Linked DNA regions of Homo sapiens. The protein of the gene in region 2 purifies or fractionates together with the protein of the main gene of each other region. This does not show direct contact. Each region holds a gene or a part of one and is shown on either strand. Other genes may lie near its edges.

What was found.
Region 1: the proteins of TRMU (region 2) and CLPB purify together in Homo sapiens (affinity purification with mass spectrometry; one large-scale study listed by BioGRID and IntAct). This does not show direct contact.
Region 3: the proteins of TRMU (region 2) and NSUN4 purify together in Homo sapiens (affinity purification with mass spectrometry; one large-scale study listed by BioGRID and IntAct). This does not show direct contact.

What each region holds. Positions count from the first base shown.
Region 1 is NC_000011.10:72,298,407-72,302,053, reverse strand, and holds part of CLPB (mitochondrial disaggregase), read left to right. Parts: exon of another isoform or gene 1-89; coding exon 90-251; exon of another isoform or gene 252-1,321; intron 1,322-1,592; exon of another isoform or gene 1,593-1,688; intron 1,689-1,873; exon of another isoform or gene 1,874-2,091; intron 2,092-3,647. UniProt on the Homo sapiens protein: Functions as a regulatory ATPase and participates in secretion/protein trafficking process. Has ATP-dependent protein disaggregase activity and is required to maintain the solubility of key mitochondrial proteins.
Region 2 is NC_000022.11:46,349,195-46,352,841, forward strand, and holds part of TRMU (mitochondrial tRNA-specific 2-thiouridylase 1), read left to right. Parts: intron 1-1,096; coding exon 1,097-1,269; intron 1,270-2,926; coding exon 2,927-2,980; intron 2,981-3,069; coding exon 3,070-3,136; intron 3,137-3,647. UniProt on the Homo sapiens protein: Catalyzes the 2-thiolation of uridine at the wobble position (U34) of mitochondrial tRNA(Lys), tRNA(Glu) and tRNA(Gln).
Region 3 is NC_000001.11:46,357,785-46,361,431, forward strand, and holds part of NSUN4 (5-cytosine rRNA methyltransferase NSUN4), read left to right. Parts: intron 1-2,919; coding exon 2,920-3,044; intron 3,045-3,647. UniProt on the Homo sapiens protein: Mitochondrial RNA cytosine C(5)-methyltransferase that methylates cytosine to 5-methylcytosine (m5C) in various RNAs, such as rRNAs, mRNAs and some long non-coding RNAs (lncRNAs).

The DNA.
Region 1 (3,647 bases), on a different chromosome or scaffold from region 2:
GCGTATAAAGTCATCTTCCCATGCATGCCCCATGTTGGAAACTAAAAGCACAGAAAGGCCTTCCTAGCATGTTTCCTTCCTTCTACCAGGTGGCCAAGTTTATTGGGTCTCCACCAGGCTACGTTGGCCATGAGGAGGGTGGCCAGCTGACCAAGAAGTTGAAGCAGTGCCCCAATGCTGTGGTGCTCTTTGATGAAGTAGACAAGGCCCATCCAGATGTGCTCACCATCATGCTGCAGCTGTTTGATGAGGTGAGTCACCTTGGGCCAGGATGGAGCGGGGGGACACCTGGAGATAAGGGGGACTGTGAACAGCAGAAAGCAAGGGCCCAGAGGCTAGCTGGTCATTCCTCGGCTTCCTGCTCCCGCATGTGTACATTCATTCATCCAGTAGGTGCAACTTAGCCCCTCTGCACTAGGGCCTGGGTGGGGCACTCAAGCGAAGACCAGCCCTGCCTAAGAGTTGAAATTGTGTGGCTGCTCAGCCCACCTTCTAGAGAGACATGGTATGGCAGAGGTGCCATGAGAGCGAGACATGAATTTTTAGTTCCAGCTCTGCTCCTGACTGGCTTTGTGGCCTTGGCAAGTCACTGCCCATCTCTAGGCATCAGAGATCTCATGTGACAAACGAGGAGGCTGAATCAGAGAAGCCCCAAAAATCCTTCTGCCTCAGACAGCTCTTGTTCCTCCCTGTGTGCCAAACATTGTCTCCTGCAGTTCTTTAAAATGCTAATATTGTTGCTGCTAATGGTGAGATGCTGATACTCTGATTCATGGAGCCTTTCTCTTCTGAGAATCTGAGGGTTCTCACAGACTGTCCAGTTCCCCTGCTCGTAGGGGTAAGTTCTAAATGGAGAGAAGAGCTTACTTCTATCCAGTACCTTCTGTGTACTAGACCTGTACTAAAGACGTTACAGCCATTATCACTAATCCTCACAAGGTAGGTAGAAAAATTCCTAACAGGCAAGGGAGAAATTAGCTCATTTTTTACAGATGAAGAAACTGAGGTTCAGAGAGGTTATAAAAGACATGCCTAAGGCCACAGCTGCTGTGTAAAGAGCCAAGATTGGGCTGCAGATATGTCTGATCCCAGAGCCCCAATTCTCCCCCCATACCACTGTTTACCTTGAACCAGGCGAGGGATTGCTTACGATCACGGAAGAAGATGACTTCCACCTTTTCAGGGGCCCTGCTCCATCAAGAGAGCGTGAGGAGCCAAGGACTGAACCGGGGATGAGGCCTCTCTTCTCTCATGCAGGGGCTATATTAGCTAGCACCTGGCCATGAGTCCAGCTCACCTTTCTACCTAGTCTCCTGCAGCCCTAGGAAAACAAAAAGGTGGTTTGCTTCCCATGTCATAGGAGGCCACAGGGAGGGGACTCCTCCAGACCGAACAGCACATCAGGTACCAAGCCAGGAAGATCCAGATCCAGATCTCCTACCAGCTGCTCACTGCCTTCCCCACCTGGCCCAGCCTCCTTGCCCCTGCCCGTTCCGTTGTATCTTCCTAGCCCTTCAGCTGCTCCCTGCCCCTGAACCTCTGCTGAGGAAGAAGAGACCAGTCCTTCAGAGGTCACATACTCAGTTACTCACGTGTACACTGAGGCCTCTACTCCATTCCAGCCTCTTGATGGGATTCAAGTGCACAGCTATGACCAGACCCGAATGTGCCCTCTTGGAGCTCTCTGCCTGGTAGACAGGTGGAAAGGAGACATGGTAGTAGCTGGCATTTTGCATTTTGTGTGCCATTCGCTGTCTTCAGAGGCTTATGTGTATCAATTTAACCCTTTCAACAACCCTCCAAAGCTAGCTATTATTACGGCCTCCATTGAACAGATGTGGAAACTGAAGCAAAGTAAGATTAAGTCATTTACCTGTGGTCATGCAGCTGGGGAGAGAGAATCAAGGATTCAAACCCAGGCAGCCCAGTTCTAGATCCTGCAGCTTGAATGACTGCCACGCAGCTAGGGCCAAAAGAGCGAGGTCCGTCTCAGTGAAGCACGCAAGGGACGGGACCATGCCGCTGAGGGAGGGTGAGCATCGCGGCCTGTTTGATCTCTGGTCTCCCTGGAGAGGCACCTCTGATGGCATTCTTGGCCCAAAAAACAGAAGGCAACTGCTGACTGAAGTACAATCAGCCATACATGGAAGCCCTGTCTCCCCCTCCTCCGTCACTTCACTCCACTGACTGCCTTTTAGGGGTTGATAGGAATTCCTTCCTGCAGCTGTTGTCGCCCCTTCCCCCAGCCCCAGCCTACTATAGTTTCTGATGCTCTTGGTTCCATTGACCAAAGCTGCCATCCAGGTTTACTCGATTTAGGCTCTTTGAGGATGGGCCCTTGTCATGTTCACTTGAACCATTCCCAGAGCCCACAAAGTCAGGGGAAATGTTGTATTGACTAATTTAATTCAACAGTAGTTTTAATTCAACAGTAGTTAGCAAACCTTCAAAGGGTTAGTAAGTGCTAGGTGAACAGAGTGGCGGGGCTGGCAGTAGAAACCTAATGTATAAAAGTACAGGGCATGAAACAGGCTGGCATGCTCAGGGAACTGCAGCTGGTCAGTACTGCTCGATTGCAGAGGGAAAACAAGGACAGAGTGCTAGAGACAAGGTAGGTAAGGTAAACAGGGCCCAGTTAAAATGCCAGGCACAGAAGTTTGCATTTCTCTGGTAGAGAGTAAGGAGCCTTTTAAAGACTTTAAGCAAGAAAGAAACAGTCAAATTTTCACTTTACAAAGATGCCGTGGGCAGCTGTGTAAAGAATGGATGAGAAGGGAGAGGGTCATTAACAAGGAGACTGCTGGGGAGCCCAAGCTACAGCTGGGGAGGCCATGGGCTGGAGAAACTACTAGAAGGTTGACTGAGGAGAGGAGGAGGAGCCAAGGGTGGCCAGTTGGCTGCTGCCAGTTGGCCATCAGCTAAGGCGGCGAACACAGTGGGAAGCCGCAGATTGAAGAGGAAGGTGAGGCACTGAGGTGTGGAAATGTTGAAGGTGAGATACCTGAGGGACATCCAGATGGAGATGGCCAAGGGGCCGTTCATCAGTTTTATGGGTCAGGAGTTTAGGAAAGGTCTGACTGAAAATAGCAGTTCAGGAATCCTTCAGCCCAGAGAGGTTAACGGAAGCCACAGGAATGGATGAGGTCTGTAACCCAGGGAGTGTATAATGTGCAGAGAAAAGAGGGCTATACACAGAGCCTTGGGACCTATCAGGGAAGTCAAGACAGACTCGCCAGAGAAGTAGGAGGCAAAACCAGGCCAGGCATGATGGGTCACACCTGTAATCCCAGCACTTTGGAAGGCCGAGGTGGGCAGATCACTTGAATTCAGGGGTTCGAGACCAGCTTGGGCAACATGGCAAAACCTTGTCTCTACAAAAAATACAAAAATCAGCTGGGCATAGTGACATGTGCCTGTAGTCCTCACTACTCAGGAGGCTGAGGTGGGAGGATGGCTTGAGCCTCAGAGGCTGAGGTTGCAGTGAGCAGAGATTGCACCACTGCGCTCCAACCTGGGCAACAGAGCCAGACCCTGTCTCAAAAACAAAAAAGAGCCAACCAAAAGAATGTGGCTCATTCATTTATTCATGAGGCGCTGTGTGGGGTAGAGGGGACACTGACAAAACAGATGCAGCCCTGGCCTTGGCG
Region 2 (3,647 bases):
GCTGAACTTGGTCTCACTTGTCACTCAGTTCTGCTGTTTGTACCTGCCAAGTAAGGGAGGGGGACTCGGGAGGCTGGGCAGCCTCCAGCCCCACCGCCTCCACCTGCATCACTTTGGGCGAGTCATATGTGATGAACTGGGCCGGCTCCAGTCTCCCCTCTGTAACGTGGGGAGAATTCTCCCTCTCACGGCTAACGTGGGAATCGGCAGATGGAAAACACTAGCTACGCAGAGTGTGTACTGTACACGTGGCTCTGCCAAGCCAGGAAGGGTAGGTGTGCTGTCTGACCGTCACGGCATGTGGCGTGCTCTGAGTGTAACTCGAAAGGAGAAGTTTATGAGAAAGATTGAAAGAAGCCAGAAAACTGACGTTCGTCTTAGTTTTTTGCCATTGATCATTGAACTCGAGAGTGGAGAACTGGACGGTTCTAAGCCAGGTTTACTCACACCTCTGCTCCGTTGCCTTAAAGCCAGAAATGGTTCTTTACAATCACATAGGGAATGTCGGAGGAACTGCAGGGTCACCTAACAGATGTCAGCTGAGACTCTCAACAAAAAAACGTTTTTACCAAGAAAGCTAATGCCTTCACAGGTAGGGCGCTGCTGGAGGCATGTGCTGGCCGCCGGGCAGTGAACCTGGAAAGTGTAGAGTCCTTGAAACCACTGTGGCACGAACACATCCTGTGGTTGTTGGAAGAAGGCACAGCTGACACTATATCAGTGGAATTTTCTGCCAGCAACTAGCTTACTCCATTTTCCAAGATTTGGCTGAATTTATTTTAGGTGTTTTTTTTTTTTTTTCTTATCACTTGAGAACATTTTTTCATGTGATGTTTCATCTTTGAAAATATTATAATCTGAAGTATGAGCTGGAATAATTTCTTTGTCATGTAAAATCCTTGTTTTTTTTTTTGGAGGTGCGAATTTTTCTTACATTAACCCGTGGTGGTCTTTTCCCTAGTAGTTGCTATTGAGTGTTGATGTCTGCCTCTGACAGGCTAGGGGTAGTCTGTCTAAGTGAACAGAAGGACATTGTTGAAAGTGAAGTATCATTATTTTTATTCCTGCATCGTCTTTTGTTCTTTATTCTTGGCAGCGGTAAAACTCCTCCAGGCAGCTGACAGCTTTAAAGACCAGACCTTCTTTCTCAGCCAGGTTTCCCAGGATGCCCTGAGGAGAACCATCTTCCCTCTGGGGGGATTAACGAAAGAGTTTGTAAAGAAAATCGCTGCTGAGAATAGACTTCATCATGTGCTTCAGAAGAAAGAGGTACGAGTGAGCAGTTGCCTTTGATTAGTGCCTGTTTCCCTTTCCCGACTGCATGGCACGGAGCAGCTGGACCTGTGGGTCCCGCACCACTTCCCCTTCTCCAGGACCTAACATCAAAGGCGGGCCTTGGAGCAATAGATGGAGGAGTTTGCTGAGGCGCACGGTACAGGGCTCTGCTGACATCGGGAGCAGCCTATACGAGACTCCTTGCTTTTTTCCTCTCCTCTGCCCCTATGTGGTAGGCAGCTTTCCCCACAGCCTTAGCAGCTGGTGGGGTGCTCTTGGGATGGCCTGCCTGCCAGGTGAGTGCCAGGCAGTGTGATGCAGCCCCGAGACCCCTGGAGGGGCAGGTGCTGTGCCGCCGTCTGCACACTCATGTGCCCTGTCACCCGCTTGCCCGGCACAGACTCGTTCGGTGCCATCTGTTCGGGCGCTGTGCTGCTGGGCCGCGAGGAATTGGTGACGCGCACACAGTTCCATCTTCGCCTCCATGGAGCCCGCCCGCGAGTGGGGGACACAGGCAGGAGGCCAATCAGTGTAAACCTAGAAAATGTCTACGGAGGGAGGTGTAGGACCCTGGGTGGGAAGCACCAGTGGGGTCTGAGAGTAGGGAATGGAGATGCCAAAAACGGCCTCAAAAGAAGTCACATGGAACCTGAGACCTGAAGGAGGAGAGGATCCGGTGTCCCAGAGAGGGCTGGGAAAGTCCAGATGAGGGAACGGCAGTGCAAAGGCCTTGAGGCGAGGAGAAGCCAGGGAGCCGCTGTGGGGGTGCCTGCCTGTGGCCCCAGCTCCTCAGGAGGATCGAGCGCACCCAGGAGTTTGAGGACAGCCTGGGCAACACAGCGAAACTCGTCTCAAAAAGAGAGAACCCGGAGTGTTGGCGGAACTAGGATGAAGCCCGTGGGAGGGCCTTGGGGATGGAGGGCGAGGGCGCTGTGGGATGAGCCTCACCTCTTCAGGGGCCAGTGCGGTGGGAGCTGTTGCTCCTTCGTGTCTCTTCCTGGTAATGGAAACGGCCATACCTTTCATCAGAGCCATCTTCCCTGAAGAGCACGCCCACCGCCCGTCCTCCTCTCCTCTTGTTTTCCGTTTCCGGTGTCGCTCTGTGGTGGGAGCCGCAGGGATGGAAGGGCAGTCTTGAGAGACACAAACCAGAGTAAACGATGCAGCCCCTGATGGGGCCACGGTGGAGAGCGCACGCCACCCAGGCTCCCCAGCTAGGGCAGATGTGCTTGAGGAAGGCGCCTCTCTCCTCTGACTCCCCTGGAGCCCTCCCCTAAGGCCTTAGCTTCAGGCCTGGCTTTCCTGCTACCTGCCCCTTCTCTGGTCCCTGTCTCTCCCCCACTCCTCGCAGGACAGTGGCCTGAAGGACCTGACCGGGTTCTGCTTTCTTCCCCGGGGCAGCTGGTGTGAGGGTCTCCCGCGCAGGGTCAGACCCCGCGGGCCGAGACAATGAGGCGTTCTCTAAGGCTCTGGCATCGTGTGCGCCGGCTGTGACTGGCGGCCGAGGGTGCCGGTGGGCAGCCGGGCCCCTACCCTGGAAGCAAAGTGTGGGGTGAGGCCGGGAGGCCCCAGGGCCCGCTCAGGACGTCTGGGTACAGCTTGGGCCACCGCCACTTCTGCTCCTCTCACGGCTGCCGTCTTCTCATTTCAGAGCATGGGCATGTGTTTCATCGGGAAGAGGAATTTTGAACATTTCCTTCTTCAGGTGCGTGCTGCTCTTTGACACAAAGAGATGGGGCTGCGTGTCTGCCCTGGGCCTAGATCTCCGTCGGTAATGACATGTTTGTTTTCCAGTATCTGCAGCCTCGACCTGGTCACTTTATTTCCATAGAAGACAATAAGGTTCTGGGAACACATAAAGGTGAGGTGCAGACTCTGCCACTTGTCATCTGAAATGCCTAGAGCTGTGGCGTTTCAGCTCTGGGAGACTAGACCAGAGTTCCTGTCGTCCCTTCCACTTGGCTGGAGAATTGTAGAAGGCTCTGTGGGGCGGCCGGGGGCGGGCACGGCCTAGGGTGGAACAGTTGCCTTGATGGTGGCTGGGTGCACTTCCAGATGTGGCCTCAGCTGAGATGCTGGAGTTCATGAAAAGCGCGCCTCTGACTTGGAAGGACTATACTCTGTGAGTTACGTATCAAGTCCCTGTAAAAAGAATGATTTCCTTCCTGTGTAAGGAAAATGTTAAACTACACAAAACTCCACTCTGATTCAGGGAGTAAGGTGGACGTCCCGGCATGGTGTGAATGATTAAGGACCACATGCAGCGATGGGATCAGGCGTCCGCGCTGGCCAGAGTGCTGCTCGCTCATGTGCAGACCCTTACTGCGGTGAGGCCTGCGTGAGCCTGTGCTGTGCCTGGTGTCAGGGGACAG
Region 3 (3,647 bases), on a different chromosome or scaffold from region 2:
TGTATCTCTTATATGCTGCATAGACAGGTTTTGCTTTGTGAGCCAATCTATAAATTTTATTCTTTTCATTGCTGACTTAAGCAATTGATGCCATTGATGATTTTGGTCTCAGCTCTGTCAAATTATTATCATTTTATTTATTTATTTTTTGAGACAGTCTCGCTCTGTTGTCCAAGTTGGAGTACAGTGGTGCCATCTTGGCTCACTGCAACCTCCACCTTCCGGGTTCAAGCAATTCTTGTGCCTCAGCCTCCCAAATAGCTGGGATTACAGGCGCCCGCCACCATGCCTGGCTAATTTTTGTATTTATTTATTTATTTATTTATTTTGAGACGGAGTCTCGCTCTGTCACCCAGGCTGGAGTGCAGTGGCGCAATCTTGGTTCACTGCAACCTCCGCCTCCTGGGTTCAAGCGATTCTCCTGCCTCAGCCTCCTGAGTAGCTGGGATTACAGGTGCCCACCACTGTGCCCGGCTAATTTTTGTATTTTTAGTAGAGACAGGGTTTCGCCATGTTGGCCAGGCTGGTCTCGAACTCCTTACCTCAGGTGATCTGCCCGCCTCGGCCTCCCAAAGTGCTGGGATTATAGGCATGAGCTACTGCTCCTGGCCTAATTTTTTTTTTTTTTTTTTTTTTGAGATGGAGTCTCACTCTGTTGCCAGGCTGGAGTGCAGTGGTACGATCTCGGCTCACTGCAACCTGTGCCTCCTGGATTTAAGCGATTCTTCTGCCTCAGCCTCCCGAGTAGCTGGGACTACAGGTGCGTGCCACCACACCCAGCTAATTTTTGTCTTTTTAGTAGAGATGGGGTTTCACCATGTTGGCCAGGATGGTCTCGATCTCTTGACCTTGTGATCTGCCTGCCTCGGCCTCCCAAAGTGCTGGAATTACAGGTATGAGCCGCTGTGCCTGACACCTGTCAAATTATTTTACTGTGTTTATTTACCATGTTTCTTTCACTGTGGGGTCTCTGTCCTTGCTGTTTTGTTTTTCTTTTAACTTCTTTTGTTATTTAGGAAGGTTTATATTAATATTTTAATTCTACATTGGATAATTCCTATATCAAAACTATTGTTGACAATCAGTTACAGATGGAACTTCGTCTACTCTTTCTCCCCTTCTCACTCCTGCTCTTTCTCCCTTTCTCACTCCAGCAGTTGACTAGTCTCATTGAAAAAACAAATTGGGGCCGGCCAGGCATGATGGCTCATGCCTGTAATCCCAGCACTTTAGGAGGCTGAGGCGGGTAAATCACCTGAGGTCAAGATTTCGAGACCAACCTGGCCAATATGGCAAAACCCCGTCTGTACTAAAAAAATACAAAAATTAGCTGAGCGTGGTATTGTGCGCCTGTAGTCCCAGCTACTTAGGAGGCTGAGGTGGGAGAATCGCTTGAACCCGGGAGGTGGAGGTTGCAGTGAGCCGAGATCGTGCCATTGTGCTCCAGCCTGGGTGACAGAGCCAGACTCCATCCCAAAAACAAACAAACAAATAAACTGGGAATTTAGTTTTACTGGTTGCTGTTTCTGCTGACTTGCTCAAGGAGTCGTGTTTCCTTTTAAGTTTTGTGGTTATTTTTGTGTCCTGTAGTAAGCTTTTTTTTTTCTTTTTCGAGGCGAAGTCTCACTTTGTTGCCAAAGGCTGGAGTGCAGTGGCGCGGTCTTGGCTTACTGCTACCTCCGCCTCCCAGGTTCAAGCAATTCTCCCACCTCAGCCTCCTGAGTAGTAGCTGGGACTACAAGAGCGCTGCCACCACGCCCGGCTAAATTTTTTTTTTTTTTTTTGAGATGGCGTCTTGCTCTGGCGCCCAGGCTGGAGTGCAATGGCGCGATCTTGGCTCACTGCAACCTCTGCCTCCCAAGTTCAAGCGATTCTCCTGCCTTAGCCTCCCGAGTAGCTGGGATTACAGGTGTGTGCCACCATGCCTGGCTAGTTTTTAAATTTTTTGTAGCTGGGACTACAGGTGCATGCCACCACGCCCGGCTAATTAAAAAATTTTTTTTGTGCAGGTGGGGTCTCACTATGTTTTCCAGACTGTAATAACTTTCCTATTGGAGTATAATACAGAAGTGACCAAATCATAAGTGTACTGTTTAAAGAATTATCTTATAGTTAGTCTGGGCAACATAGCAAAATGCTGTCCCTACAAAAATACAAAAATTAGGCCGGGCATGGTGGCTCATGCCTGTAATCCTAGCATTTCAGGAGGCCAAGGCGGGCAGATCATGAGGTCAGGAGATCGAGACCATCCTGGCTAGCACGGTGAAACCCCGGCTCTACTAAAAATACAAAAAATTAGCCGGGCATGGTGGCAGGCGCCTGTAGTCCCAGCTACTCGGGAGGCTGAGGCAGGAGAATGGCGTAAACCCGGGAGGCGGAGCTTGCAGTGAGCCGAGATTGCGCCACTGCACTCCAGCCTGGGCGACAGAGCAAGACTCCATCTCAAAAAAAAAAAAAAAAAAAAAATATATATATATATATATATATATATATGTAAATTAGTCTGGAGTGGTGGTTTGCATCTATGGCCCCAGCTACTCAGGAGGCTGAGGTGGGAGGATTGCTTGATCCCAGGGAGTTTGAGGCTGCAATGACCTATGATCACATCACTGTACTCCAGTCTGGGCAACAGAGCAAGATTTGTCTCTAAAAATTAAAAAAAAAAAAAATTATAGTTACTTGTGTGTTAGTTTTGGGTTTTTGACCAGCCATGAATATTCCCAAATATACTATTTTCCACTCATTATTTCACAATTGTCTACCAAGTTAAAATGAAGAACTTTGTCAGGTACTCTGCAAAGGAGGGATGGGCAGAGGGAATATTTCACAAACTTAGGCCAGGGGCCTAAAACATCTCTGGCCTAAGGAAGAGAAGCCTATAAGGATCTTTAATACTTTACCCTTTAACACTCTGGGTAGGTGCTGGTGGATGTGCCCTGTACCACAGACCGCCACTCCCTTCATGAGGAGGAGAACAACATCTTTAAGCGGTCAAGGAAGAAGGAGCGACAGATATTGCCTGTGCTGCAAGTGCAGCTTCTTGCGTGAGTGACAGATTTTTAAACTCAGGACTTTGTGCCAGAGTGCTCTGGGAGACTGGGGGACTGGAAGCTCTTACCAAGACCATAACCCACACAAGAATCTTATGGCTGGAGATCTGCCTAGAGGAGACAGAAATGGGATCATCTCTGGAACATAAAAACCCTATTTGAATTAGCTGGGTGTGGAGATGCACACCTGTAGTCCCAGCTACTCAGGGGGCTGAGGGAGGAGAATCACTTGAACCTAGGAGGTGGAGGCTGCAGTGAGCTGAGATCGTGCCACTGCACTCCAGCCTGGGTAACAGAGCAAGACTCTGTCTCAAAAAACAAAAACAAAAACAAAAAAGCAACCCTATCTAGTAGGATATATATACTAGAGTGGGCTGCACAGATTGACTCATGCTATTTCATCCTCAGTACCAGTGAGTAGCACATGTTTGAAAAATAGCTGCTAGAGTAAGGACTCATTCTATAGCCAGCATAGCAATTTGGTCCATAAACAAGAGCTCAGGGGGTCATTGTAAGGAGACTTCCTAGTGAAGAGCTCATGGAGTAAGGTTGGGTTGCTATCTGCCTTGAGAGTGACTTTTCAGACAGTGTCATTGT